Homo sapiens: one gene and its partners. The protein of the gene in region 3 purifies or fractionates together with the protein of the main gene of each other region. This does not show direct contact. Each region holds a gene or a part of one and is shown on either strand. Other genes may lie near its edges. The genes, in order: MSI2, MTERF3, RNF157, FASTKD2, RIGI, HSD17B12 and ATRNL1.

Evidence for each region.
Region 1: the proteins of RNF157 (region 3) and MSI2 purify together in Homo sapiens (affinity purification with mass spectrometry, with the first as the bait; one large-scale study listed by BioGRID). This does not show direct contact.
Region 2: the proteins of RNF157 (region 3) and MTERF3 purify together in Homo sapiens (affinity purification with mass spectrometry, with the first as the bait; one large-scale study listed by BioGRID). This does not show direct contact.
Region 4: the proteins of RNF157 (region 3) and FASTKD2 purify together in Homo sapiens (affinity purification with mass spectrometry, with the first as the bait; one large-scale study listed by BioGRID). This does not show direct contact.
Region 5: the proteins of RNF157 (region 3) and RIGI purify together in Homo sapiens (affinity purification with western blotting; one study listed by BioGRID). This does not show direct contact.
Region 6: the proteins of RNF157 (region 3) and HSD17B12 purify together in Homo sapiens (affinity purification with mass spectrometry, with the first as the bait; one large-scale study listed by BioGRID). This does not show direct contact.
Region 7: the proteins of RNF157 (region 3) and ATRNL1 purify together in Homo sapiens (affinity purification with mass spectrometry; one large-scale study listed by BioGRID and IntAct). This does not show direct contact.

What each region holds. Positions count from the first base shown.
Region 1 is NC_000017.11:57,678,798-57,682,697, forward strand, and holds part of MSI2 (RNA-binding protein Musashi homolog 2), read left to right. Parts: intron 1-751; coding exon of another isoform or gene 752-793; 3' UTR 794-3,900.
Region 2 is NC_000008.11:96,241,025-96,244,945, reverse strand, and holds part of MTERF3 (transcription termination factor 3, mitochondrial isoform 1 precursor), read left to right. Parts: intron 1-865; coding exon 866-1,027; intron 1,028-3,921.
Region 3 is NC_000017.11:76,237,026-76,242,267, reverse strand, and holds the start of RNF157 (E3 ubiquitin ligase RNF157), read left to right. Parts: upstream 1-1,774; 5' UTR 1,775-2,027; coding exon 2,028-2,115; intron 2,116-5,242. UniProt on the Homo sapiens protein: E3 ubiquitin ligase that ubiquitinates APBB1 for its degradation by the proteasome and thus prevents apoptosis and promotes survival of neurons.
Region 4 is NC_000002.12:206,781,794-206,786,360, forward strand, and holds part of FASTKD2 (FAST kinase domain-containing protein 2, mitochondrial), read left to right. Parts: intron 1-1,440; exon of another isoform or gene 1,441-1,515; intron 1,516-4,567. UniProt on the Homo sapiens protein: Plays an important role in assembly of the mitochondrial large ribosomal subunit.
Region 5 is NC_000009.12:32,515,415-32,519,981, forward strand, and holds part of RIGI (antiviral innate immune response receptor RIG-I), read right to left. Parts: intron 1-4,567.
Region 6 is NC_000011.10:43,851,301-43,855,056, reverse strand, and holds part of HSD17B12 (very-long-chain 3-oxoacyl-CoA reductase), read right to left. Parts: intron 343-3,756; coding exon 193-342; intron 1-192. UniProt on the Homo sapiens protein: Catalyzes the second of the four reactions of the long-chain fatty acids elongation cycle. This endoplasmic reticulum-bound enzymatic process, allows the addition of two carbons to the chain of long- and very long-chain fatty acids/VLCFAs per cycle.
Region 7 is NC_000010.11:115,302,468-115,307,034, forward strand, and holds part of ATRNL1 (attractin-like protein 1 isoform 1 precursor), read left to right. Parts: intron 1-4,567. UniProt on the Homo sapiens protein: May play a role in melanocortin signaling pathways that regulate energy homeostasis.

The DNA of each region.
Region 1 (3,900 bases), about 19 Mb from region 3:
AATGGATTAGGTGAGCTCATAGAGTCAGATGGCTGCACCCGCAGCACTTAGGAAGGACTGGTCAAACACACCCATTGTCCCCAACCCTCTGACATTCAGCGCCATCCACAAAAGAGGAGCCCAGGCCCCCTACTCCCAGTCAATTCAGGGAGACTCAGTAAACACATCTGTGAATCCTGGGCCTGTTTTTGTTTCCTGTAACCAAAGCCGGTTATTTGTTGTATATTTTTAGTGTCATGACCTTTAGTTTTTGGTATATGATATGATCTTTTAGTGTAAGTTTGCATTTAAAAGTTATCGATGGGTATCTAATAAAGGCAAGTTTGTGGGGTTTTTTTTGTTTGTTTGTTTGTTTTTTTAACATTTAGCTTTGAAAACAGAAGTTTAAACAGAAAAAAGGTATCTCAGGTCAATGGGCAGTTTGCCCACCTGGCTGCAATCCCTGTAAGCACATTTCCCACCACTACCTCAACAACCCTATGGTACTATATCAAATCAGCAAAAGAATTGAAGCCTTGTCCTCTCCCCAGTGTCAGGTATGGTTTAGATGTCAGATTTCCCAACCTGTGATCTCAGTAAGCTTCTAGCCAGGTGATTCTCGTGCGTATTCAATAGTCCAGTGAAGTCCATCTTTGAAACTCTAGTTAAAACAGTGGAGGAAATCGCATACTTGTCTGACACTTCTTTCTCCTCCCCTCTCCCCTCCATTTTATGTTTTCTTCTGGACATCCTGGCCTTCCCTGCCCTGCAGAGCATACCTGGATGTCCAGGCAAGACTGGGCGAAGTTTCTGAGTGGCCCTTTGTTTAGGTGATGTCCTCAGACCTGGACCCCCACCAGCCTCACTCCCCATCCCAACCAGAGATGGCTCACTTCGGATCGAGGGTTGACTACATCTCATCATCTCACGAATCTGCTGTAATATAAGACAACAGCTTTTAAATGTGTATATAACCCATGATTTCGGTTTTGTTTTGTTTTGTTTTTCTTGATGGTTTCCCTCTCCCTCCCTCTCTTCCCATTCTCCTTTTAAATCTCTTTGAATCACATTTGGTAGTGATTTTGACTTAGTCCAGTAGTCACATAGCTTTAATATCTAGTTCAAAGCTAACCATAGTATAATTGTTATATTAAGGAGTTATTTTTTCTTAAAACATTTTTTTTTGCTTGTTTTGGTTCTGTTCTCACTTTTAAAGGATGCTGAGATGGTAATATGACTCTCCATATTTTGGTACCAATTCTGAGACTGTATGAATTTTCAGGTGGAACTTTAGCACACACTGAAGCAAAGTTGTGAAGTGCAGGGCGGGAGGTGGGCGTGAGCTTTCTATTTTGCGTTGTAGAAGAAGTGAGATGTAGTAAGCTAATTAACAGACTTTCTAGCAGTTCTTTTTGTGATGTCTCTTTGTTAATCTGAGTCTATCTATTTTCGGCAATAAGGTAAGGACGACAGTGTTTTGAGTGTCCTCCTTTTCTATAAGTGCTTTTTTTCTGTTGAAAGAGGTGATATTATAAGGTTTTTTGAAATTGTGAATTCTAAAAAAGAAATGTTGTAAATACAATTCCATTAACTACATAGAAACTATTAAGAAAGAGAGAATCAAAAATATTTTTGTGAGGGAGTCGGTCCCAGGCAGTTTGATGCTCTGTGGAAGGAGGCGGGAAGGGAACGTTGGCCAAGTCAGTTACTGAGATGAAGATCGCCCAGCTGCCAGGACCACCCCAGGACAAGTTAGAGCACTGTTTAGCTCCTTTGTCTGTGTGATAGACCTAAGAACTGTATTAGTGTTGTACCAGCCTATTAACCTCTTGTCTGTGCACAGCTTCAAATGTTACCGTCTAGTTAGATTTTTATTTAAAATATGAAAAACTGCTTTTCCCAAGATGTTTTTTAAAAACAAAGCTACAATTTTAATATTTAACATATTTAAAGTTTCAAAGCACACCTGTTTGGCTTGGGTGGGGGTGGGGTGGGGGGGACATTCTTTTTCAGTCTTAATTTTTAAATATTTGATCATTTTCTATTGTCCAATCATTTCAGCACCTCCAAAGGTCCCTAGGACACTTTGCCTCTCTTCTCCCCCTGCCCCCCACCCTGCTCCCACATCTGGGGGCCCATGGGCCAGGAGTGGATAAGCCTGCATTAATACAACCTTTCTCCATTCACTTTCTATTTACAAATTAGGAAAGCAACCTTTTGGTTTATATATATTTTTTTTAATACCTCAGTGCTGCAAGTATCACCAGAGAGGCTATGGAAGAATTTTTTTTTAATTTATTGTAGATGTAAACAGAATTTTAAAAATAAAAAGTATAAACATCACTGCACTGTGACTGGTGGGAAAAACTGACAGTTTCCTCTTTGCACATGTTTAACATTTGGCTGTTATAATATATGGTCCTCGGTTGGGGAAAGATACTTATGATGAAGGATATTTTTTAATTTAACTTTTTTTTAAATATTGGTAATAGGTCGGCAACAGCAACTATAGAAGTACAACTCAATAGATGGCATTAAAACATATTGTAGTGTGGATATATATTTTTTCTTTTTTAAAATGTGATATTGACGTTTTATTAATATTTTTTAAATTGTTACGTTTATAAATTTGGTACTTAAGGCACAGCCAGTATGAGACACTGAATGCGACATTTATTATAAAGAGCTGCTGCACTCCTATTTTTATAAATTTTACTAACAAAGTAGACTAATGTAGACATTCACAGACATGGTAGGGCAAAAGCATCTTCAAACTAAAGACTCCAAAATGCTAACTCAGAAAGAAAGAAAAAACCCGTTTTCAATTCTAATGAAACAGCAACAACATTTTTTTTAATTAAAAAAAAAATCATGTTCTTTGTTTTTCTAATAAAATGTTAGGTTGTTTGGTGAGGTTTTTTTGTTGTTTTTTTCCTTTCTTTGTTTCTTTTCTTTTCCCCCAAACAACCAGATTAAATGCTGAGCGCTTTTAAAATATCAAAACTTGTTCAAGTCATAAAACAACAAAACATAAGTTTTATTTAAAAAAAAAAAAAGAAAGAAAAAATAGTAAATTCCCAGAAATTCAGTGTTTAGACGAGGGAATTTAATTCCTATTTTGTCCATGTTGGTGATGTACTGTACTTCCCTTCCTTTTCTCTGCATCCCCCATCACCTCATAGAAGACTCTTTGTTGATCATTGTATGTTAATAATGTATAAAATGGCTATCTTGTAAGCGTGCTGTCCTGGTACTAGTGTAGCGACTTTTTTTCTCCTCTTTCTTCTAGTACATATTGATAGGTATAACATAATTAAGGTTTAAAAAAAATTAGACATAGTTATTCAGATTTAGGACCAGTAAGGATAGAACTTTCTCTTATTTATGAAAAAAAATGCTAATAATTTTGGGGCAGTTTTTTCCTTTAATTATTTTTTTCAATTTCAAGTTTAATTTTATTTTAGCTGATCTGATGTGGTTTCAACTAACCCAAGGTCTCACCATGTTAAAATGCCGGCGGACTCTACGGCGTTTTGTAGATCCCCCCCCCCCCACCCACTGTGAAGGGGTGCCATACTACCTTAAATGCTAATGCTAGATATGCAAAACTGGATTTTTTTAATTTATTTTTTAAAAGAGGGAGGCATGGTATATTAAAATGATTTTACTAAGAGAAAAAATATTTTTTTAAGAATGCTCAGAAGAAATTGATAATCTGTGTGAATATGTTTTAGATGTTTATATACCTTTTGAAGAGACCCAGTAGCCCATAGCACAAATCTTGTGGAAATCCGATATGTTTTAATGTGGCTACCTAGGTTTAAGGTTCACGTTAGTCCCCCCATTCCATCTAGAAGTCCATTTTGAAAGATTTTTGTAAATTCTTTTAACACTGATGTTTCAGCCTCGTCTTTGTTTCAG
Region 2 (3,921 bases), on a different chromosome or scaffold from region 3:
CTGCTGCTGAAGGATCTGTTTGGTGTTGGGCCCATGCCTCTGACCTGCAGCGCTCCCATGTCACTCATTCCCTCTTGTAATTATGGTTGCCCCTTTGGTGAGCTTCATGACCATCATGGTGTAGCTCTTTCTCAGCAGAGGGGTTTGAAATTCTGGTGACCCCAGGAGCCGGAAGCTGTAATTCCTTGAAGGCACTGGCATAGCTGTCTCCAAATTTTAAAATGTTATTTTAAGTTTAAAAGAATCATGGTCAGGCGTGGTGGCTCATGCCTGTAACCCTGGCATGGGAGGCCGAGGTGGGCAGATCACTTGAGGTCAGGAGTTTGAGACCAGCCTGGCCAACATGGTGAAACCTCATCTCTACTAAAAATACAAAAATTAGCCAGGCATGGTGGTGGGCACCTGTAATCCCAGCTACTTAGAAGGCTGAGGCAGGAGAATCACTTGAATCCAAGAAACGGAGGTTGCAGTAAGCTGAGATCGTGCCACCGCACTCCAGCCTGGATGACAAAGCGAGACTCCGTCTCAAAAAAAAAAATCATGGCCAGGCGCGGTGGCTCACACCTGTAAGCACTTCGGGAGGCCAAGGTGGGTGGATCACTTGAGGTCAGGAGTTCAAGATCAGCCTGGCCAACATGGTGAAACCCTGGCTGTACTAAAAATACAAGAATTAGCCAGGTGTGGTGGCATTCCTCTGTAGTTCCAGTTACTTGGGAGACTGAGGCAGGAGATCATGCCACTGCACTCCATCCTGGGCAACATAGCGAGCTCCATCTCAAAAAAAAAAAAAATCAGTGCAGCCTTGCCATGGTACCAAAATAACTATTTCTACATAACGATTCATAGCAAATTTACTTTCTTTTAGGTTTATCGTCTTGAACTTGGTTTTAAACATAACGAAATTCAACATATGATCACCAGAATCCCAAAGATGTTAACTGCAAATAAAATGAAACTTACCGAGACGTTTGATTTTGTGCACAATGTGATGAGCATTCCCCACCACATCATTGTCAAGTTCCCACAGGTAATGCCACTCACAGCTCTCTCTGTAAGCGCTGCCATTGCGCTTCATTTGGAGCTGCTCTCCAGCTGCATAGTTCTGTACGCTGGGAAGAGTTTACAATTTGCAGGGCGCAAATGTCCATCTCCTGAGGAGAAATCAGTGATTAGTCTCTTTCCCTGGAGTTTCTACCTAGTCCTAGTTCTGATTGTTGGAATCAGGCCAACAAATCTAATGTAGTCTCTCTTCTCTCTCATGTTTTTCTCTACTTTACTTTGGAATAGATCACTTCCCTTAAAGGTCCTTTCACTGCTACGTGTACTTTTTAGTCACAGTTTATTTAAATTCATGAATCAATAAGCCATATTGTAATGATCCCCATCCCAATATAAAAGTGATCCAGTTTGCCATCATGCCAAAGCCGTAATTATATTTTCTAAGCTAATCAAGCTTCCATATTCTTTACCTAGTGAGTGATATTATCTGCTGTTCACAAGAATATTAATCTTGAATATTGACTCTTTAAAAGCAGAAACTTTGTCTGATTTATACACTGCCAAATCCTCAGTGCCTAGAACTACACCTGGCACTAAGTAGGCACACAATTAATATTTGTTGAACAAATGAATGATTGGATTTTATCAAAGTAATCCTTTTTTCCTATTTCCTATGCAAATAGCCACTCAGTATTTATTGGATAAATGACAAACTGAATTTTTATTTAAGTGATCCCTCTACTCCATTTGCTAGAACACATGTTCCTGTTTTTGAAAAAAGATGGGTAAAAGAAATATGACCTTAATACAACTCTCAGAACTAGACTGCATTAGGTCCAGTTCCTTCACATACAGCTATATTTATTTGCCTATTATACTTCACTAGGAACGGGCCTCTAATATAGGATTTTCCTATTTTACCAAACGTAAATATACCCATTATAGAAGTGTTAGAAGCCTACAGTTTTGTGAATTTGGCTCATGGAGTAATTGTGAAATAATCTTCAACGAAAAAGAAATGACAATTTGTTTTTCCCTGGGTTGGTGGGTAATTCATTTTTCCAGTATATCACTGAGCATCCATCAGTGCTACACATTGGGCACTGAGGATACAAAAGTCAAGCAGACATGATCTCTGTTCTTGTGGAACTTATAATCGAGTGTGGAAGACAGGTTTAAAAATAGAATTGCTTTATATGATGGTAGAGTCCTAACCAGAGCTCCTACAGTGATTTAGAAGCGGTAGGAGAATTATAGAAGTAATAACAGCAATTGAGTACTTACTGTGTGCCAGCTCTATCTTTATTGCTTTATTTGTATTAACACAGTTAATTCTCACAACAACCATATGAGGTAGATGCTATTATTACCCCTATTTTACACATAAAGAACTTAAGCTTAAAGAGATTTAAGTAACCTGTCCAAGGTTACCCAAGTAACAAGGTTGGGGCAGAACCACGATTAGAACTCCAACAGTCCAGTTTAAAAACCCAAGCCCTTTACTAGGATCTGCTAGAAGTACATTTGAATTGTCTGTAGAAGAGGGAGTGGTGTTTAAAAGATGGAGAGGAGCTTTCCAAATAGAAGAAATTATAAGCTGACCAGATGCATCAAAATCACTTAAAAACACAGATTTTAGGCACCCCAAACCCTTGCCTCAGAGAAGCTCTGTTGTAGAATTGTGGCTTCCAAATTGGGATTCTCAGATTCCTAGAGTCTAGGTGGAATTATTGGGGAATAAAAACAGAAAAATAAAAAGCTTATTAATGAAAAAATACATTAACGGACAGTAAGGCTGTGAATGGGCTGATATAGACTTTACATTTTTGGCTGGTGTTTAAATCTCAGTGGCATGGAACTAATTTTCTCATGTAGATAATATTCCTGGTTGGCAGATCTGACTTACGATTAATTAAAAATGGGGAAAGAAGTATAACTTAATAACTATGATCAATTTAGTCATTTCAAAGAAGAGATCTTGGAAGGTAAAGGATAACAAAAGCAGTTTTAGGGTAATGAATGTGAAGAAATCACTAGGCTAAGGAAAGAGGTTATATTCAGGATCCCCCGAAACCTTCACTCTCCCCTTCCTCTGTGACTTTCTGTGAAGGCAAAGTTGAAGTCCACCTTAGGATTAGAGGGAACCAATAATTCTCAGGCTAGGGGCACTTTTTTTAACTCCGAAGAATTTAATATGTCATTAATAGGATGAAATTTTTGTGCCAATGGCAAAGTAGCCCCTGGTGGCCAACAACTCTCCCCCCACACCACCACATCCATAAAAAAAGAAGGGAGAAACACCGCAATCTGAGCAGTAGCTTTTGGACTTGAAAGAGTACACAACTCTCTAATGATGGAGTAACTTTGGTCCACTGGAGAAGTAAACGTATAATATCTGCTCATAAGCTAAATAAATGCTTTGAAGTGTTATTATATTTAGGAAATTAGTAATCGTTTAGGAGCACCAGAACCATTTGTGGTTTTGTCTGTTGTTGGGTGATAGTTTTTTTTTGTTTTTTGTTTTTTTTGTTTTTTTTTGCGATGGAGTCTGGCTCTGTCGCCAGGCTGGAGTGCAGTGGCGTGATCTCGGCTCAGTGCAACCGCCGCCTCCCGGGTTCAAGTGATTCTTCTGACTCAGCCTCCTGAGTAGCTGGGACTACAAGCGCCTGCCACCATGCCCAGCTAATTTTTGTGTTTTTAGTAGAGACGAGGTTTCACCATGTTGGCCAGGATGGTCTCAAACTCTTGACTTCGTGATCCGCCCACCTTGGCCTCCCAAAGTGCTGGGATTACAGGTGTGAGCCACCGCGCCCGGCCGGGTGATAGTTTTTTAAGCCAAGAATCACTGCATAGGAGTCATACTTCTAAAAAAAAATCTATCTAAAACCTCTTACATCTTCGTTATCCATAATATTGTGATCA
Region 3 (5,242 bases):
TACTCTGTGATGTGTCGAAGGCCTTGTGTTTTGAGGTGGTTCTAGATTCTTATTTGCATTTTACCTTTACCCAGCAGTTACAAGGTAGGGCCTGTGTGTGCTGAAAGGAGTATGGAGGAGGACACCAGTTCCCTCCCACAGGGATGACTGAAAGCCCTGGAGTAGTTAGGACCAGGGACTCTGCCAGAGAGCTCTGGTGCTTGGGAGAAGCTGCCGGGGCAGGGACTTGCCCTGTAACCCAAGCCTTCGTTAGCAGCAGCCAATATAAATGACAGGGATGTGTTCCCACCATCCTGAGGACCCTGGAGGAAACCAAGGCACTTAGCATCAGGTCTGTTGGCTGCTGCTGAAAAGACGGCAATGAAAAATACGAAATGTGCCGGGCGCGGTGGCTCACGCCTGTAATCCCAGCGCTTTGGGGGGCGGAGGTCAGGAATTGGAGACCAGTCTGGCCAGCATGGTGAAACCCCATCTCTACTAAAAGTAGAAAAATTAGCCGGGTGTGGTGGCACATGCCCGTAGTCTCAGCTACTCGGGAGGCTGAGGCAGGAGAATCCCTTGAACCCAGGAGGCGGAGGTTGCAGTGAGCTGAGATCACGCCACTGCACTCCAGCCTGGGCGACAGAGGGAGACTCCGTCTCAAAACACAGAAAAACAAAAACAAAATATAACCAGGAAAGACCTAGACTCCGTAAAATAGCTTTACAAACCTAATCAAGGGAACCAGACACCCCAAACTGTACTTCGAACACTGTTGAAAAGTTGTGAAAGTCATGTTCTAGCAGTTGAAATGTTTGCTGATCAGTCCACTCTCTCAGGAAAAAAAACACCAGACCCACAAAGAAAATAGAAGGTTTAAAACACAAATGTCTGTAATTAAGCAATGGAATGACGTCTTCCGCCGGCCCAAGCTTCCCACTGTTGTGTGTGTTTTTATCAACAGGAGCTCCCGGTTCTGCCTGGCCCGGTTCGCTTTCGCCTGCGTTGACTCTCTTGGCACTCAGGCCTTTCCAAAGTTTCCGGGGTCCCGTTTCCACGATACAGACAGAGGCTGGATGTCTTGATCTTATCCTCAGTCGATGTTCTCCTAACTTTAGGGCTACAAGGAGCCTTAAACAGCATGTATAGAGTTGGGAGCGCTTTGAATAGACGCACGTGAGAGGGAGGCGGCATCTTCCTAGCCGGTCACCAGCATTAACACGGGGCAGGAGACATGCGAATGCACCGTGGGACCCCTCTCCCTACCCCCCTGCATGAGATTTCCGAAGACCTCCGCCGGCCGACGCTGAGGGGCGGGGTTGGGAAGGCTTCCTCCAGGCGCGGGAGCAGCGGAGCGGGGACCGCCCGCTTTGGGACGCCCAGGACAATGGCGAGCGAGCTCCCGGCCAGTCCTCGCGGACCGCGGGAGGGGGCGGCTCCCTGCGCGGTAATCCGAGCCGGGATAAACAGGCGCGGAGGGGCGACGCGTCCCGGCCGGGTGCAGCGCTCGTCTCCTGGGGTCCCAGCTCCGGCCGGTCCCGCCCCGCCCCGCCGCGGGCACCCGGCCGCGCCCCCGTCCCCGTCGCGAGTCCCCGCCCACGCCCACGCCCCCGCCGCGAGGCCCTGGGCCGCGTCCACGCGCGCCGAGTCCAGCCGCGGCTCCCCGCGCGAGGCACGCGCCGCCGGCTCCTGCTGCAGTCCCGCGCTCATTGGCTGCTCCGGCGCGGGCGCTCCCGCCCCGCCTCGCCATTGGCTGGGGCCGCCGCGGTCCCCGCGCGGAGCGGCCGCTGACATCACGCGGCCTGAGGCGGCGGCGGCGCCCCCGGCCCAGACCCGCAGCCCCCTTGGCAGAGGCGCCGCCGCGGTGCCCGGCGGAGGATGGTGCGCGGCGCGCCGGGGGCTCCCCGCCGCCAGAGCCGCAGCGCCGCAGCGGAGCCGGCCGCGGCGGGCAGTCGGCCCCCGCACCGGGCGCGGGGCGGGCGGCCGCGGTGAAGCGCGGAGGGCGGCGCGGGCACCGGGGCCGGGCCGGGGCTGCAGCCGCAGCGGCCATGGGGGCCCTGACGAGCCGGCAGCACGCGGGCGTGGAGGAGGTGGACATCCCGTCTAATTCCGTGTACCGCTACCCGCCCAAGTCCGGTGAGGGCGGGCGGGCGCCGCAGCCGCGAGGAGGGAGAGGGGCAGGGGCAGGGGTCTGGGTCGGGACGGCCTGAGGGGGCCCCGCGGGTCTTCGGGGACTCAGTGGTTGCGGACGCTCCGAAACGGTCTTCGAGCGCGGGAGGTCTTCGAGAAGGCCGAGGTCTCCCCCGCCCCGGGCGAATTAGCCCAAGGGGCGTCCTGCCGGGTCTAGCAGGGTCACCGAGGGCACCGAGCCCCTCCACGGGAGGACGGGAGCGGCCTCCATTGTAATCGGCCCCGTGACGGGGACGCGTGCCCGCAGGGACCGAGGCTCCTGGGGAGCGGGGCTGCGGCGTCGTAGGCGAGGTCGGCGCCCCGCACGGACCCGGCCGGCCCGGCCCAAAGCCTACCTGCCTCGCGGGGTCCGAGGGCCGCGAGGGAGGCGACCTCGGCATCCAAACAGGCACTTGCGCCAGGTGCTATCCCTGCGCTGCCGTCTCCTGGCCTCTGGAAAGGTTAGAATTAGGTTTCTCCTGGAAAAGCTTCCATTGCCTGCTGAAGGATGGAAGCCAAACAGGCATTTGCAGTGCTGGTGCTTTTGCAGAGGCTGTCAGAAGCCGGGGGGTGGGGGGGGTGGTGGTGGTGGAAAGTAACAGAAATGTTTGGGAATCTGAGTATCAGAGTTACTCGGATTGCCCCTTTGCTAGCGTAGTGGCAAGCCTGGGTTTTGGAGTGGGACCAGCTCTGGGACAGGGCAGAGGTATTGGAAACGTATAGAAGTATGTTTGTTATTAGAATCATCCCTTCACTTAAATGTCTCTAGCCTCTGGATTGTGGTATCAGCATTGGAGGTGGAGGAGGATTTTGACAGCAAAGCAGAGAATCACAAGGTAGTTCAGTTATGTGAGCACCGGCCAGTATGAATTGCATGACCTAGCCGGTGTTTACTTTTAATTGCAAGTAGTTTTATTTTAATTAATTACTTTTAATTTTATTCTCAAGACTTCTGAGGATGAATGGCTGCGACATTCTGTCTGCTTAGGACCCGATGGAGATTTTGGTGATTTCGGAATGAGGTGTCAGAATTGGAGCAGAGCCTCGTCTCTTTTTGGTAGAATAGAGACATACTGAGATGAGCTGGTTTCTCAGCAGTGTGTCCAGTGTCTGCCAGGTGAAAGCAGGGGCCAGACGATGAACCTGCCCGCATCCCTGCAGAGTGTCTGCCAGAGCTGTGTTTCTCACTGCTTTTGTACCAAAGAATGAATCCTTGCAAAGATGAATATGGTGAAGAATTGTTTTAGAAAGGTCTAAGATAAAGCTGTGGGTCGTTAGTATTTTAATAAAGCTCTGACTGATTATGACTACATAAAATCAACGCTAACCAAGGCATAGATTTTGTTTTTTAATAGACAAAAATATTCTTAGGGCGGCATGAGGAAAACTTTTTAAAATAGACAAAAATATGCAGCAGTATTTGTGGGCTCTGTTTTTCTTAAACCACATGGCTTTTATTGATCAAAATATGGAGCATACTTTGCTGAGCTTGGAATTTTCAATAGTGTTTGCTGCCTCAGGAAAGTATTCACCGCTCTTTCATATGTGGGACTTAACATAGGTAAACCTCTGGAAGGCTGTTCCCCAAAGCATATTTGTACAAGTATGAATCTTGGGTGATGATAATAAAAAGACAATAGACCAAACCAAAACTTTTGTTAATTAGCACACTCAATAAATAATCCTCTCCTCTCTACCAGTTTTAAAAGTTTAACTGTAAAACTGTAATTCATGTTAAATCAGAAGTTATACATGAGAGAAGTCTTTATAGCAAGTGGACCACATTATTTCTGTTGAAGCTAAAACATAGAAAATAGAATCAGAACATCCTGTCTCTGTCAGCAAACCTTTGTGTATTTGAAACCTTATGTGAGCTTGCATATATGCTCTAGACGGAGGCATCGCCTTTCTTCTGATCTTTGAATTGACCTGGCTCTTTATGGGATTACAGTATTAGTCCTGAAAGGAACCGTTGACAGAGTTTGGCCATGACCACCATGCCTAGCTAATGTTTAATTTTTTTTTTTTTTTTTTGAGTCATCGTCTCTCTCTGTCACGCCCAGGCTGGAATGAAGTGGTGCAATATTGGCTTACTGCAACCTCTGCCTCTAGGGTTCAAGCAATTCTCCCGCCTCAGTCTCCCAAGTAGCTGGGATTACAGGTGTTTGCCACCACACCCGGCTAATTGTTTGTATTTTTAGTGGAGATGGGGTTTCACCATATTGGCCAGGCAAGTCTTGAACTCCTGACCTCTCAGGTGATCCGCCTGCCTCGGCCTCCCAAAGTGCTGGGATTACGGGTGTGAGCTACCACGCCCAGGCAAGTTTTTTGTAGAGACACTCTCTCACTATGTTGCCCAGGCTGGTCTTGAACTCGTGGTCTCAAGCAATCCTCCCGCCTTGGCCTCCCATTCATTTCACTGATAAGAAAATGGAGACCCAGAGAAATGAATTGGTATGGCCAGGGTCTCTCAGCCAGTTAGTGTTCTTCCTACTATACTGTCTGCCTCCACCTCTCAAGGAATTGGGTTTTGAACTTGTACTCAAAAAACAAGACTTAAAACAATCATTCCATGATTATGGAATGAAGGCTATTTCGTGTCATAATTGAAGTCCCTATAGAGGAATCAACCTGGGTTGATTTTGAGAAGTCTCCTTATCCTGAGTACTAACAGTGGAACAAAGCAAGTGGCAGAGTCAGCTTTCTCCAGATGACATACCTTGTAGTTTGAGTGTTAAGTTGAGACCACTATCTGGCTCGCTGGAAAGCGGCTAGACCTGCACTGCCGGTGGAACAGTTGTTTCGGAAAGAAGCACCATCATCTGTCCTTGTAATGACGGTCACAGTGTCCAGCTGAAATTGCTTTTTTCTTAGTATATTTAATGGAACTTCTTAGTTTTGTATGCACATTGAAACAAACATTTAAATCCTATCAAGAATGGCAGATTTCAAGTTGAGACTTGGGTTTGTAGCTTTTTTCTATCCTTAAATAGAGGTAGATAGAAATAAATAGCCTAAATTATTTAGAATTATTTATTTTTGAATAGGTAATATAGTCACACGGTTCAAACTTTAAAAGAATGAAAACGTGTAC
Region 4 (4,567 bases), on a different chromosome or scaffold from region 3:
TGAGTTGTGCTGTCTGCTGCAAGCCACTGACCCCTTTTTTTCCTACTTAACTGCTCCTGAGCATTCAAACTATGCTGGTTTCGTCCGCTCTCCTTGTGAGGTGAGATAGAAACCAGCTCCTTGGACAGCTCACCAAAAGGCTAGGATGTTGAAGACATGCTCCACTCCTCTCATTTCCTCCTGAGGCTGAATCCTCGGGTTGCGTACCTTCTCTCAATCTCTCAGAGCTGTGCTGAGTGCAGGAAGCTGTCCACCCCTTTTCCTTTGTTCTTAACTGCTCTCAGGCATCTGAACCCTGCTGGTTTTGTTAGTATTCCACGTGAGTTTAGACAGAAATCCAGCCCCTAGGGCAGCACAGTGAAAAGCCGGATGTTGGTTGCACACTCTACTCTCTCCCTCCAAGGGAGAAGTCCTAGGCCAAGGTGATCTCCTTGGTGCTGAGCTGTGCCGGCTTTGGGGAGGGGCTGACCTGGGTAAAATGTTCTTCTTGCCTGTTTCAGTGCAACTCTTCTTGGTTTTGTTCTTGTCTGGAGTACGACAATATCTTAATTGGTTTCTGGACTTTTCATAAAGGTATTTTTGTCTATATGTCCTTGCTAAATCAGTGTTTCTGAGAAGCTGTGAGAACTGGACCTTCTTCTAGTTCAGTTTTGACCTTAACTATTCATTTGGTCTCAAGCTACTGCTTTCTATTCTTTTCATTTTAACCACAGCCATGCATTCCTACTATTAAATACAGTAATTCCTCAAATGTGCCAGCTTCTTTCATACCTCTGCTTTCTACCCAGAACATCTTTTCTTACTCTTTGGATCAGTCAGGGTTCATTAAAAATCAGAAAAGCATATAAAATGTCATTTGTTAAAACAGTGATTAAAAGCATGGACTCTAGAGCTAGCTTGCTTAGGTTTGAGTTTCAGCATTGCCATTTGTTAGCTGCTTGACTTTTGGCAAATTACTTATCTGTGCCTCAGTTTATTCACTTATTAAAATGGAGATGAGCTATGTCTAATCTCATTGGGTTGTTATTAGAATTAAATGAGTTAATCTATGTCAAGTTCTTATGACAATGCCCAGCACATAGTAATTTTTAGATTTGAAAAAAATTAGAGTGTAGGTCACAGAGGCCTTGGGGGAACAAACTAGGGCAGTTGTGAAGGTCTCAGTGGCAAGATGCACAGGCCATCTGTTTGCCATCAAATGACTTGACTCCAGCTGCTTGCTTTCCTTTTAGTTTTCCCTCCAGATTTAGATTTCTGAAAGAGAACATCTGATTGACTGAGTTTGAGTCAAATGCCCATCCCTTAGGGGCAGTTAATCAATTAAGTGGTGTCAGGCCAACTAAAAAGCAGCTTCCCACTGTACTGTCCACTGAATGGACAGACTCAGCTCATACTGCATTTCCTGTGTCTTCCCTAATTGTCACCGTCAGAGTCCCTGTGCTTGTCATGTCTTACCCAGTCTCCGGTGCAGCCTTGACAACAGGCTGCACCGGAGACTGGGTAAGACATGACAAGTTGTGTCACATCATTTGTTGTGTCAGTAAGTCTGTCTCTGCTCCTCAGTTGGTAAGCTCTCCGGAGTCCGACCCAGCTGCCTGTTTTTCTGAACTTAGTACAGGACCTGCCAAAGAGTAGACATTTAATAAAGGTCGAAAAATATCTCCCAAATTCAATCTTCCTTTACTCCCCTGGCTTCATTTTCTTCTGAGGCTGGCTCCCATTGATGCCTTGTACTTTCTAGACAAATAATATCAAGCTAAGTGGTAATTAAAACTCCAGAAACAGCCCCAGAGGGATTAAGAGAGTAAGTACTGGGCGGGTAAGAGTTTTTCAGGTGACTCCAGGCAACCTGAGAGATAACTTGTTCCAACAAAATTGTTACATTGAAAATAGAGGGGGGATAACAAAGGTAACAAAGGCTGGGAGGACATTTAATAAAATGGCAGTAGTAGAATTAGTACAGGAGGAGAATCATGAATGTTGTCTTTTTGTCTGTCTATTCTGCTTTCATTTAACCTAGTGGTTTTCAAACAGGGATGATTTTGCCTCCCAGGGGACATTTGGCAAGGTATGGAGATGGTTTTTAGTTGCCACAACAGGAGGGAGGTCTGTGCTACTGGCCTCTAGTGGACAGAGGCCAGGGGTGCCGCTAACATCCTACTATGCAGAAGATAGCCCCTCACAATAAGGAATTATCCAGCCCCGGATGTTAGTAGTGCTGAGATTGAGAAACCCTTACCTAATTCTAAGCCTCCCACCTCAACATTTCTCCAAAGGAGAAGTAGGGGCAATATGGCAGATATAGCAAGATTAATTAGTCACCATTTCCTGAATGCCCATGAATGTACAATTGCCTGGATTTGGTATTTTGAAGGCTATAAAAAAAGAAGTTTGTATTCCCTGCTCTTCCTAGACCATTTATGAGAACAACTCTGTTGTATATCCAGAGGAAGGCAGTACATGGTAGGCACCAAGTAAGTGCTTTATGGAGGAAGGAGAAAGGAAGATGGCAACTTATCTGGAGTAGCAAAGGTTTTGGAAGCAGAATAACTCAAAGTATTTGGGAAGAGAGTTGACTAGAAGAGATGGTTAGATAGGAGAGTGGTAGGAATTCTGGCTTATTGTATACCCACATGCTATACATTAATCATTATTTCATTTATGATGGCCCATCGGGGAGAGGGTGTTAAATCCAGAGTATCTTGCTGGGCTTTGAACCCAAGGAACAAATATGTAACGTTTAAGCTCTGTTGTTTTGGTCCTTTGGTTTCTTCTCTTCTTGATCTGTATTTACCACCTTATGGATAATCCCACATTTGCATCTGTGGTCATTAGTGTGCTCCTTAACTCCAGACCTGAGTCTCTGTGGGTTGCATATGGTCACTGCACATCCCAGAAGTGTCTCAAGTTCAGTAATTCTGGAAGTCAGCTATTTTTCTTGACTCATCGTTTTCCAATGACAAGCTCGTCCTCCTGTCTTCCTCATCAAAGTTTATTTGTTCGTTTAGTCAGCATTTGCCAAGCACCTGGACACTTAGGAGAAAGATGAATAAGACAGTCCTTCTTGCCAGAGGATTCTGTGTAATGGGTAAGGTAGATATGTAAATTGGCAGTTAAATATAGCATGAAAATTCGAGTGATCTAGCATATTAGTCTGTTTTCACGCAGCTGATAAAGACATACCCGAGACTGGGCACTTTACAAAAGAAAGAGGTTTAATGGACTCACAGTTCCACATGGCTGGGGAGGCCCCACAATCATGGCAGAAGATGAAAGGCACATCTCACAGGGCAGCAGACAAGAGAGACAGCCAAGCAAAAGGGGTTTCCCCTTATAAAACTATCAGATCTCGTGAGACTTATTGACTACCACAAGAAGAGTATGGGGGAAACCACCCCCATGATTCAGCTATCTACCACTGGGTCCCTCACAACACAAGGGAATTATAGGAGCTACAATTCAAAATGAGATTTGGGTGGGGACACAGCCAAACCATATCATCTAGGATATTTGGAAATAGAGGAAGGATATATCAGGATGCCAGCCTGGTGAAGAGGAGGGTCAGGGGATATCAGGCAGTGTTGCCTGGAGGGGTTGGTATCTGAGCTGATCTTAAAAGATGGAGAGATGGGGTTTTACCATGGAAAGATAAGCAGGAAAGAACATTCCAAGTGAAAGGCCCTCTATATGCAAGACCTGGAGGAAAGAAACAGCAGAGCACATGCAGGGAACAGCACACAGTTTGGGCTGCTGAAGCATGAGGTACAGGGTGAGGAGTGGGGCAAGAGAAGACCAGAGGGGGGATCATTACCCAGGCTCCCAACTTCCTTGTCCACACCATCCCCTGCCCCCGCATCCCACTGCATGTTCCAAAAGCAGTCAGTACTAATTTCAGACGTGCTGCCTTGCTATTGCGTATATGATCTGTTATATTCCTCCCATTTCATCATAATTCCTATCGTTTTCCTGGCCTTATCACAGCCCTTCATCCTCCCCAACACTTCTTCCCCTACCCATGGACCTCTCAGTTGATTTCAGTCTCATTGTTAACAAGGGCTTGTGTCCAGGCATATTTGCCCCAGCTGTTAAGAAACACTCCTCTGTACCTTCATCTCACCAGTTATTCACTATCAGGCAAGTAGCATGTGCTTTCAGGGCTGTGCTCAAATCTTCTTCCCTTATTCCATCTTTTCCACTTATTCAAATTCTCCTCCCAAAAGCTTCTGTTTATTTTCTTTCCTCTGCGAGATCACAGTACTTTGCATGTATTTCTTTTTTTATATAACTATATGTATCATATGCCCTGAGAATCAGATTGACGTGTGTTCAAAGGGTATCTACCATTTATTAGTGGTGTCACTCTGGGCAAGCGACTGCCCCTGATTTTGATCTTTTCTGTCTTCATTTGTGCTTAACCACGTTATACTGTGTACCATTAGCTGTGGGTGGTAGGATTAGGCTTGCAGTTCTTTTAACCCATAGTATTGATAACTAGATAATTTTAGTTGGTTATAAAACTGTAGTGGTGGTCCAGGCGTTATAGAAAATCTAGCATAATTATGAAAAG
Region 5 (4,567 bases), on a different chromosome or scaffold from region 3:
TTCTCAATAAACTCACATGCAAAGTGCTGTTTCTTTCTCAGACAAGTAAAATTTTCTATTTTTTCCATTTATCTTTGCTTCTGTCTTCTCTCTCCTTTCTTGGAACCCACAGTGTAACCAAATTGTATAGACTGGATTTGTGTGAAGATACTATTAAGCACTACCTCCCTTGTAATTTTTCATTTGTGAATCATATTTTCAAAAGAACTGCCTACATTTATCTTCTCCACTTCCTTGCCCTCTATTTATTCCTGAGTCTACTCTTGCAGTTAGTTTCCCAACCATCTTATACCTTTACCTTCATCCCTATTCCACAGAAACTAGTCCTGTGGGTGGCCCCAAAAGTCAATAATGCCAAAGTAAGGGAACGTTTTTTTAGTTCTGACAGACCTTGGGTTCTCAGCATCATTCAGCCATGTTATCCACCACATCATTCTCCCTTGGTTTCCGTGATGCCTCCTTGCCCACATATGTGGCACTCTTTCCCAGTCTCTTTTCCTCCTCTGCTCATCTCTTAAATGAGTGCTTGCACAGGATTCCGTCCCAGGCTCTTTCTACTCACACTCCAAAAAGCAATCTTGAAACTGACCACAGTCCCACAGACATTTATTCCAGAAAAACAGAAATTGACCCTTCTGGTCTTTAAACTTGAAGCTTACACTTGTTTTATCTGAGATCCTTTCTCAGGCAAAAGACCACCAGGCCTCTCAAAAAGTATCAAACTGAAATTCACCAGATTATCACATCCAGACAATGAGGCCAGGCCCCTCATTCATCATGATTGCTTCCTGAGTTCCTGTTTTCCCACACAGTTACATTTCTTCCCTGCTATATAAACCCCTAATTTTAGTGGGTCAGGGAGATGGAGTTGAGACTAATCTCTCATCTTCTTGGCTACAGCTCCCAATTAAAGGCTTCTTCCCTGGCAATACTTGTTGTCTCCCTGTTTGGCTTTCTGTGTGGCTACCAGGAGGACCTAGGCCAAACCCCTGGTGCTTCAGTAACAGATTTTTGTGGCTGGGTTGCTGTGGTCTAGGAGTCTCAGAAGCCCTCCTAAGCAACTGCCCACCCAATTTTGGCTGGAAGTGAGTTTTGGTCTCTCTGGCCCTGCTGCTGCCAGCCCCAGCTGAGTTCCTGATTGCTAGGAAGAACAGCCTTTGAAATGTGACACTGGCATCTGGATAAGTGAGTGTCCTTTCTTGGCCCAGACAGCAAGATCTGCTCAATTTGAAAATTTTAAAAGGAGCTTCCATTTGCAGGTTAAACCAGCCCAACTGACTAAGAAAGGGAAGCACCCTGACTCTCAGTATGATACTCTAGAGAGCGTGTTTGTAATTTCTGTGTTTGTGTCTGGCCAAGTTAGTGTCTTTTTTGGGTACCAGACAGTGGGATCGGCTTCTCTCAATTTGGAAAATTCCTAAGAAATTTCTGTTTGCAGGTTAATAAAGCCCGATTGAGAGAGAAAAGCACCTCGACTGTTTCAGTTTGGACACTGTTCGGGCTTGTCTATTGCTTCAGCAGTCGGATTGTGTTTTGTTGATTGTATGTGTCAATATAGTAATGGGAAATTAGAATTCAACAAACAAATATTCTTTTGTACTACGTTTGCCCCAATATTCTTTGGAATCTGGAGTTGGCTGTTGAATGGGAAAGCCAGGTGGAGTCCCATGTATTCTGGCTTTTATGCCGCTGTTTTAAGCAGGGTTGGGCCTGGTGAGTAGTTTCCACATGACGTTCTTCTGTAGTGCTGTTTGGCCCCAGGTTTCTTTGGAATCTAGCTTCTAAAAATCAAACTGCCATGGAAACTGCTTTACCCAAAATTCTGGTTCACAGCCTTCATTGGATTACCGATTGGAGCAAACAAATTTTAGCCATGTGGACTTGGTTGTAGATTCGTGAGTTTGTATTGCTATCTCATGGCTAGAGTTCCAAGGTAAAAGCTGTTGGATCTTTGTGTGTGTATACATGTTTAGATGTGTTTATCTAGATGTACATTAACTATGTTATACACTATACCTACCAAATTGGCTTATAAATAAGAGTGCTCATAAATTAAGTCCAAAGTGTTTTTCAAGTTCACATGACTTCAGTAAATCTTTAATAAACAAGCTGTCTTTAAAATTATTGGTAAAATAAAAATAGAAATGTCTTCAGAATTGTCAGCATACATTTTTGTCTCGGCTTTATATTTGTCTCAGCTAGATAATTTGAGGTATCAGAGTTTGGCAGCAGGTTATAAAGCTATAAACCCAGTGAATATTTGTGTGAATTCTTTATAAGACTAATTTAATGCTGTTAGTTTAATGAAAACAGCTGAATCTTCTGAGTTATTGATCAAAATGCCCACGTATTAATTTTAAGGTTATTTAGGTGAACACCTGACATTCACAGGTTATAAAATGGTTAAGAAGGAAATGATGCAGAAATAATCTAGATAAACTGCTAAAAATAAATAAAATGTAAATGGTCAAATGCTGTAAATGAACTTTTGGCATAATCGGAAATATAATCATTGGATGTTTGAGTCATTTCCAATTAAGAAAAGGTTATGATGTGGGGAACATGTTTCTAAAAATTGTGGAATGGTTCTCATCTATAAAATACTAATATCTGCTAGGCAGCTCAAGATTTCTTGCTTCCTAGGTTTTTACTGAAATTTAAGGTTGTTACTAAGGATAAGAATTCTAGTTCATATGTAATTCTATATATAAAATGTGCAAAAGACAATGTGTTTTTATTCAGAAAAAAATTTTATCTAACTCAGAAGTTATCTAAAGTTTATTAATAATTATGGACTTGAAAGGTTACTTATGAAACAAGGTAGAAAAGAACAAGTAGACGAGAGAGATGTGGAGAAAGTTATGAGTATAAAGATGTATTTTTGGTAAGGAAGGTTATAAAGAAAATAATTTTGTATGACAAAGCATCTTATAATGGTATTTTTTTTGTCCTAAAGTAAAATGACTGTTTAAAAAAAAAAAAAGAAGAAGAAAAAGAACGAAAATCCAGGACAAATCAGAAAGTCTAAGCATATCATAGATGGTGTGTGTAAGTCATGTAGTTTCTTTCCTATTTCTTTGTGTGTCTACCTTTATGTACAGACAGAGAAAATACAAAGTATAAAAGGCTTAAATAATATTCTCTTAAAACCAGATAGAATATTGGAGAAATCTGGCTAATTAACACTGCTCATAGTTAAAGCTCTTAGTCTTGATGAAAGTAAAATAAGAAATATTGTAAAGAAACACATTGGCAGTTTGGCAATCCTTTCTTAATATAGTTAACCATGAAGCCAGATAAAAGCCAGATATAGCAACAACCAAATTTCACCTACATGCTTGCATTGCTTCACACTGTATTTGCTCTTCTGCATAGATATACTATCATTACAGTATAATACTTACTGGTCGGCCTCCTCCAGAGTAGCTGGGATTATAGTTGTGTGCCATCATGCCTGGCCAATTTTTGTATTTTTAGTAGAGATGGGGTTTTACCATGTTGGCCAGGCTGGTCTCAAACTCCTGGCCTCAAGTGATTCACCCATCTTGGCCTCCCAAAGTGCTGAGATTACAGGCCTGAGCCACCACGCCCAGCCTAAAGTGAATTTCTTAATTGCACAAAATATATAGTGGTATTGGTGAACTTAAAGACATTAAATTGTGCATCAGGAACAAAATATTCATCATGTGTTTTTTTGGCTCTGGGTAACACTATAGCCTCCAAGTTAAACTGAGTAGAAAATTTTCAGGTTGGTTTCCTGTTTGTTTTTTCTTTTAATTTGCATTTATTTGCTGTTTCTTCTTCTTTAGGTTTTACTTATATATACATATTAATAAAACCATTGATGGCTTTTAGTTTCTAATGTAAGGAAGGCTTTTATTTGGTTCCATGAATAATCATTTTGTTTCCTATGCATTTCCAGTATCTCATCATTTGCTCTACTTATCCAAAGTTCCTAAGCTACCTTTTTCAAGCTTCCAAAAATTGTTGGTGGACACCAGCCTTTAAAATTTGTTTGGTTTTGCTTACCTCTAATGAACTAGAGAGCTATAAGAACTTTAAGATTCCTGGCAAAAAATAATAAAAGGTTTATTCTTCTAAGTTCTGAACAGAAATAGTACATTATTATTGGTTATTTGGAAAAGTAGGTGAGAGAAATGTTTAAGTGGTGTTTATTTCCAAGGTAATTCAATTCAATAAACAATAGCGGTTTCAGATCTTTTCCTTTAATGAGGCAAAACTGCTATATGGGTACAAAGTCTTAATATTCAGAAAAAAATTGGCTTTGTCTTTAAGGAAATTATATTGATTGGGCTTTCTCTCAAACTAATTTAGTTGTGTTTACTATTATTAAGATTAAATAACATTTACTTGGATTAAGTCATAAAAAAAATTATAAGACTTTCTAGTGTTTTTTTTATCCTAAGCCATTTATCACTGATGGGCCTTCACATGTATACTTGAAAACAAAATATGTACATACAAGTGTTATGCCAGTTTGAAGATTCTAGTGGTGTAAGTCACTTAAATCAGTTGTCAGTACTTTATCTAGAAACCAATCTTGGAA
Region 6 (3,756 bases), on a different chromosome or scaffold from region 3:
TTGTTTTTATTTATAGGTAGATTTTAAAGTTCTTGGGTATACGACCATTATAATTATAACAAGATATAGATATCTTGTTACTATGGCTGGACAATGTATATGTGCTAATCTATTACATACTATCCTGTAACTCAATGGGAAAGAAACCCCAAGCCAGAAAGTATTGATTTGTGATTCAAAAAATCTACCTACCATAAGAGCATGGATCAGGTATCCATTGGTTCGGGATTGCAGGCCGACTGTTTTAATTGCAGACTTCACAAACGTCTCCGGAGAGGGCTTATCCAAAGTTGGCTTCCGGATTTTAGCCAGTTTTGTAGCTACGAAGTATGGCAGGACACTCTAGAAAGGGAACACCCACCCCAGAAAACATGCCATTGATTAGTAAGGCCACAAACTCAGAATGTACAGTGGTGCTTGACTGCTCTTAGTGGTAGAAACATCTGTATCTTTACAGAGAGAGAAGAAAAGAGAAGTGGCTATCTAAAGCCAACTTGATAGAACACATGATACCATAAAACAAATTGTAACAAATCAATCTCTCAATAAAACAGAGTTTGAGACCAGAGAAAGTATTAAAAATAAGCAGAAATCTACCTTTTTGAACCTTTAAAAAGGAAAGCATTAAATAATCCAGAGAGCACAGATTCAGGATAGGATACTTTTCACACTTAGTAAACTCAACATTGAGACAGAACCACCAAGTAGGAGATCTTTGATACTTTATTCTTCTAATGGGATAATGCCAACTTTCTCCATAATTTATGGCTAATTAAGCTTGTTCTATCAGCTTTGATCCTTCTAAAATAGACATCTTATTTCTCAGACTTGCGTTACTACTTTTCTTCCCTAGTTTCTCACCATTCTACTTCTGAGTTTTATAAACAATTTTATTGATAAGATAGAACCACCTCCCTTTTTTTCTTTTTTAGAAGAAACACAGTCTAACAATATGGAAACTGTTTGGGTAACTAAAAGACACCTGACTGGATGGGTGTAGGGTGACAAATCTGGACATGACCTTTAGAGGAACTTCAATAATGTTAGGTTCTTTATTGCTTAAGCTTGCTGCATTTTGGATGTGATTCAACACAGAGTATAAGGAAACCCTATTGTAACAAGTCCTGAGTCATGATACAAGAGGTCCTTCTGTAGTTTGAAATAACCTGGGCATGGTAGTTCAACAAAGAGTGAATGTATTGTTTATCTCACATGTGTGAAGTATCACTGCAATGATACTTCTTTTTTTCTTTTTCTTCTTTTTTTTTTGAGGCAGGGTTTTGCTTGTTGCTTAGGCTGGAGTGCGGTGGCACGATCATAGCTCACTGCAGCCTTGAGCTCTTGGGCTCAAGGGATCCTCCTGTCTCAGCCTTCTGAGTAGTTGGAACCACAGGTGTGCACCACCATGCCCAGCTAATTTAAAATTTTTTTTGTAGAGACAAGGTTTCAACATGCTGCCCAGGCTGGTCTCAAACTTCTGGGCTCATGTGATCCTCCCACTTCAGCCTCCCCAAGTGTCGGGATGACAGGTGTGAGCTACCACGCTTGGCCCAATGACACTTCCATTAAAGAAAAGGAATGGTTCTAACACATGGTGGTCAAAATCTTAAAATTTCAATCAAATTGAGATCTGTTCCATTCTATGGATTTCCGTCCTGCTGAGACCTAGAAGGAGTGGTCCCATGTCTCTGGTTTTTTTTTTTTTTTTTTTTTTTTTTTGAGACAGAGTCTCAGCGAGAGTCCCCAAGCTGGAGTGCAGTGGCGCGATCTCTGCTCACCACAAGTTCCGCCTCCTGGGTTCACACCATTCTCCTGCCTCAGCCTCCCCAGTAGCTGGGACTACAGGCGCCCGCCACCACGCCTGGCTAATTTTTTGTATTTTTAGTAGAGACAGGGTTTCACCATGTTAGCCAGGATGGTCTCGATCTCCTGACCTTGTGATGCACCCACCTCGGCCTCCAAAGTGCTGGGATTACAGGCGTGAGCCACCGCGCCCGGCCGTCTCTGGGTTTTTATGTACGTGTGTGCTTTGCATTTTTCCCACTCCGAAGTCTAAGTCAAGGAATGCAACCCACTCTCCTTGACAGGTTAGATGAAACCTCAGCCTCTTCATTAGAACCAAGAACCCCAGATGGAGTGCTGTCACTCTCTATCTTCCTCTTTCCTTGTTGCTGCAGCCACAGACTCATACTAAGTATGAAGTACTTCAATATTTGAGCCAACTTTGATTAGGTAACTTTTGATTTCTGAGAATTTGTTTATTGGGATTATCACTATATATTTATCCCTCACTTAGAAAAAAAAATTTTTTGTCACATCTTTTAAGGACCATTTTGCCACAAGGATATAGTCTATGAGAGCACACACTAGGGTGAGATCTCCGACTCAGACTGAGTAGGAAATGCAGAGTTCAGTGAGGCTCTCACAATGGGTCAGTAAAGAAAAGGTTATTTCCCAGAGTAAAGTTGAGCAGTAAGGAAAGAAAGAGTATATGTAAATACTCTGATCTCACATAATGAAGGAACATAAGCAAACCATTTCTCATTTCTATGCATTAGGTTTAAAGGTCACAAAATAGTGAAGATTAAAAAAAAAAACCCAAATATAGATCACAAGCCTGGTAAAGGTATTGTAAGATTTTGAGCTTCTAGAGGTAGAGATGGTCTAATCATTATACCTCTCAACTGCGTTATAATTTTTTGTTCCTTTCGTCCATCCTTTTTGCCATCTTCTTCCCTCCCTTCGTATGTAACATGGTATAAATTGGACTACTTTGATCTTGTAGGAGAATTAAGTTGCACTGCCTGACTGAACCACTTGGTGGTGCCACAAGTTAACTCTTCATGCAGCTAAACCATAGAGCTAGTCTAGAGAACCCCCAGATCAAGGGGTGGGGACAAGAGATGCATACTCAGGAATTCCAAGTTGGGTTATGTTTTTCCAGCTAAGAAATGTAAATTCTTTTCTAGAAAGTATATTTATTTCCACGATGGTTTAAAATCAAGGCAGTTAACATGGCCTAGTGGAGGGTTCAAAGACGAAACAGCGTTTGAGCTAAGTCTTAAATGAAGTGCAAGAATTTCCCTAATTGTAAACAAATAAGGGAACAGCAGGAGCCAAGAAAAGGAGCCACAGAAGAGCATGATGTTTTTCAGGGAACTGCATAGCTCAGGATGGTTCAAATGTTGGAAATGTGTGAAGAGTGGCAGGAGGGAGGCAAAACGGTACAGAAAACTGAATCCAATCACTGGGCAGTATCCATTTCTAGAACACAAGCTCCATGAAGGCTTGGTCATATTCATATATTTTAATGTTTTAGAACAGTACTTGGTACATAGCAGGGGTACAATTAATATCTATTGAATGAATTGGTGAAAGACACTTCATTATGGACAGCACCGAAGAAGAGTACTGGGGTCTCTTTCCACTGCTATGATCCAGAAAATTAATTACACCAAGAAGTTGATAATATGAATGTTTAAGCCAAAATTTTAGAAATTCTGAAGCATATATAAGAGCACCTATCTAAACAGGCATACTTATAGCTACTTGCCAATGATTTAAAAATAAATATTCCAAGTTATATGAAAGTAAAGAAATATCTTAGATATCAAAAAGCCATCTAGGTACACCCTTCAACTGTTAAATAAAAACCCAACAAGGGATAATTAGTTGATTTCTCCTGCTTACTCAGGAAAACATTATGGGAAACAGGTCAAGAAGATACTCATACTTTTATAGGAAATTGTGGGCAGA
Region 7 (4,567 bases), on a different chromosome or scaffold from region 3:
TGGATTTGTCTAATTTTTCCCTCATGATTAGATTCAGGAAAGCATTTTGGGGCAAGAATATTTTATCAATGTTGGTATATCTGCTACAAGTATAGAATGCACAGTCTTGAAATCACATAGAGTTATGTCAGCAGGGCAGTACTGGGCTTGCTATGAGTTATACTTCAGGAGAAAGATTTTGCCCCTTGCTGATCTCTCATGTTTTCTAAGGACTATAGGATAAGGCTGCACCTGAATGAATATTTAATACTGGGTACTATGTGGTGAGAGTGGCCTTGCTTACAAACACAAATGGCGTCAGAATACAGCTGCCAAGGGAATTGCATAATGCTACTGGGAGCACTTGTTAGCCTTGTAGGAACTTAAGACCGTGTGAAACTCTTTCTGCTTGGGAGAAAAAAGTGCCAATCTTAGCTAGCTTCTTCATAGCAGAGAATATGGTTTATCTTTCTGCAATCCACTCTTTGACACTGACGCTCATCAAAAATATGCCTTTTCACCTGAATTAATTGGTATGTTCAGATTTGGAACAAAAAAGTAGAAAGTTTTACTTACTCCTGCTGCTCTCATGACCTGTTTCTCAATGTTGGTTGCATTCATTCATATCCCACTCATTGGTATCTGTCCCTCTTGTAATTAATCCAGACTTTATGTCCTTTTTTTTTTGAATAATATACTTTTCAGGGGCCCAGTAGTTACCATTCTACCACCATAGAAAGCTGCAGAATCACCTGAGATAAAGTTGGTATGCAGGTTTTTTTTTTTTTTTTTTTTTGAGATGGAGTCTCACTCTGTGGCCCAGGCTGGAGTGCAGTGGCCTAATTTCAGCTCACTGCAACCTCCACCTCCCTGGTTCAAGTGATTCTCTTGCCTTAGCCTCCCAAGTAGCTGGGACTACAGGCATGTGCCACCATGCCCAGCTAATTTTTGTACTTTTTTTAGAGATGGGGTTTCACTGTTGGCCAGGCTGATCTCGAACTCCTGACCTCATGATCCACCCAGCTCGGCCTCCCAAAGTTCTGGGATTACAAGCGTGAGCCACCGCGCCCGGCCGGTATCCAAGTTTATGTCCGTTGAGGATGCTTTGATTTGAACAAAGCAAAATATCAGTTATTTGGTAAAGTCCAAACAGACAAATAAAATCAGAAGTTCTTTTGCTTCTTTTTCAGTTCCCTTCTTCTCAACATCTGAGTGTCCAGGAAGCTCACAAAGAAAAAAGGAGCAAGACTCCTTGGATTTTTTTTTCTTCCAATACTTTAACCTGCAGTAAACAGGATTTGAAATGAGTGAATCTAATTAACATGTTGGTGTGTTTGATCCAGGTTCCAAAGAAACTGTAGTTACAGTTCAGTCAAAGGAGACAAAATAACAGCCACTTGGAGTCTGGTGTATCTATTAAACTCAGGAATATGTTGTGGTTGAAATGTATTCAATGAGATAGGGAAAGCAACAGTTTCCCTCTCTATACAGGAATTCTCTCCAGGGGATCTTTATCCCGATTCTAATTCCTTTCTCCTAACAGCCCTAAGTTCTCCACTATCATCATCTCTCTTCATTTGTCATATTTGAAACTTTTAAAGGTCAAAGGTCCATTTTAGGTTTTTGCATCAGTCCACTGGTTTCCCTCTGACCCTTTCTCTCCAGGAAACAGCCACTTGGAGTTTTCCTAGGAGTGTAGGCCATAACACAGCTTGTTTCTATAACGTTCATAAGTATCTTCAGGACTTTCTTATTAGATCATTGACTTTCTTGCAGTCCCTCCATAGGAGCAGCCACTGGCAGCCTGACTGATGAAAATACAAACAACTATCCCAGCAGCAATATTTATTTTCTGCCCGTCCACTCTTCCTTCCCTCCTTTGAGCTTTCTTGTTTTTCCTCTGAGAGGCAACCCATTCTAGTTAGCAATTATAGTAATGATATGGCTCCCATGAGTGGAGGAACACCAGGGCTCTTGTCTCACGTTGAATTAGATTAAACAATACGGACACACGTGGAGTGGTTTTAAGGAGCAGAGAGTTTAATAGGCAAGAAAGAAAAGAAAAGGCAGAAGGTTCGCTCTTACAGAGACAGAGGGATGGGGGCTCCACAGCCGAAAGAGGAAACCCCAAGTGTGGTGCGTACCAGGCAGGTATATGTAGAGGCTGGAGGAGGGGGTGTCTGATTTGCATAGAGCTTAGGGGATTGGTTTGACCAGGCTTTCATTCAGGTAGCCCTCGGAAAAAAACTGGCCTTCCCACCCTAGCCTTTTAATATGCAAATGCAGGGCACCATGATGTTCTACACACATGGGGATATGTGGGGCGGCCATATTCCCAAATACATGTGGGGCAAGGGCAAGAGGACAAAGGTGGGAATCGCCATGTTGAGTGGACCCAGTTTCTAATGGCTTGCATATGCATACTAAAGGTTGCCGGCTTGGCTCTAAGAGCTGGGACTTTTCTGTTAGACAAGAAACACTTTTGGAGGTGTTTTAAAAAGAAATGAAAACTTTCCAAGGACTCCTTTTTTCTCTATCTGCCTAAAATAATTTCTTAATAACTTCTATCACAGTAACTTCATAATTCTGAGATCCCTGTTGGTGGTAAATCTAGTATGTTGAAGCCTGTAAGTGTATGGCCCTTGGACAACATGGTCACCCAGTTGATACTAGTCCTTCTTGCTCAGATGAGTCATCTTCCCATTTAGAGGTAGCCACTGCATAAGGCAATGCACGTAGAGACTTACTGACTTTCTAGGCCTTTCATCACTCTCAGTGGTCCAGTCAAATATGTATTTGGTCCATAGTGGGCACCACTGTTACTTGAAGAGCTAAGGCAAAACAGTAACACAATGCAGGCTGGAATCCCAGCTGCAGCTGTTGTGTTCATTTGTTCCTTCAGGCTCTTGGCATGAAGTGGAGAGGTATGCCTGGGATGGACATGGTTGGATGTATTATGAGTTGAGCTCCCTGTTGATATCCTTTTTTAGGGATTGTGGTAAGGAATGGGGGTGTTGTACCTGATCAAGTGGGTGGCAGTGTGGTGGTTGCAGGCATAAAATGGCCTTTGTGCATAGCAAAACATTTCAAAACTAGGAGCCAGCTGCCCAGGAGAGTTGAATACAAGAGTTGAAGACTTGTGGGGAATGAGACAATGCGCACCTTCTCCTGCCTCAATAGTCATGCTTGTCTCTCGACAAACATTATTGTTCAATGAAAGAAGCTAGACATGAAAGATTACATACTGTTTGACTACATTTAGGTATAAAGTTAAAAAATAGTCAAAACGGCACTGTATTGTTTAGAAATGCGTATTTAGGTGGTAAAACTATAGAGTAAGGCAAAAGTGTATTCTCAAAAATGTCAGCTAGAGGATGTTGCTGGGGGAAGTTTAGGGGTGCTGATTAGGAAATGAAACAAGAGAGGCAATGCTCCACTTCTAGGCTTTGTGCAGGTCCAGAGTGTGTGTTTATAGGAATTTATTAATCTTATATTTTTCTTTATGTAATTGTATGTGTGTTATATTTCACAATAAAAGAGGCTAGAAAGTAGGGAAAAACTGGTTTGTGAAAGTCTAAGCTCTTATACTCTTAACAACTTTCTAAAAATTATTTAGAATTAAGCTTATGTTGTCACAAATTTTTCTTATATCCCATTCCTTCTCATTTGTTCTACTTTTTTGTTTTTTTACAATTTTTTTTGGTGGTATAACACACATAACATAAATTTTACCATTTTAACCATTGGTAAATAATCTTTAGTAATTTCTTTCAAATAAATTGTGACATAAACTTTTGAGTCTTTGCATGTCTAAAAGTGTACTTTTCATTTTCACTTGAATGATAAAATGGCTAAATGTGGTATTCCAAATAATTTTTTCCTTGGAACCTCTTTAGCACTCAGTGTTGTGGATAAGAATTCCAATGCCAATCTAATTTTCATTCCTTTGTGGAACATCTTTTTTATCCCCCCTTTGGGAGCTTTTAAGATTTTTTTCTTTCTTGTTGGCATTCTAAAATTTTTCATTGTTTTAATTCAGTTTTTCAGTGATTGATGTGGATCTTTAAAATTAATTTTTTTTTACAGTTTTTCATTGAAGAAAAGGATTTTTAGATTTTTTAGATTTTCTCATTGGCTCTTTAAATCTGAAGAGTAGTTTGTTTCTTCATCTGCTAAAAATGTTGTGTAATGTCTTAAAATACATGTTTTCTTCTCTTTACTCTTGTTGCAAATATTAAAATAGTTGCTGGAACTTCTAGATATATCTTAATATTTCTTAACTCTGTTTGCATTTTTTGTATTTTTGTTTGCTAATATTTAGCTATTTTTCTTTTTATAATCCTTTGAGACTTTTTATTTATTTGAAATAAGTTTTTTGAGAACAATATAATTATACAGTGCAAATATAAAAATTGTTGTAACTGATTTTTTTTGAGAAGGTTAATGAAACATAATTCACTATTTTAACACAGGTATGAATTAAATTCTACCACTGACAAATCAAATAATGATAACTAAATACCGCTGGTGGGATTGTCAGCTAGGCAAGCATAAGTCAGGTCTTCAGGTCTGCCATTGTCTCTCTTGT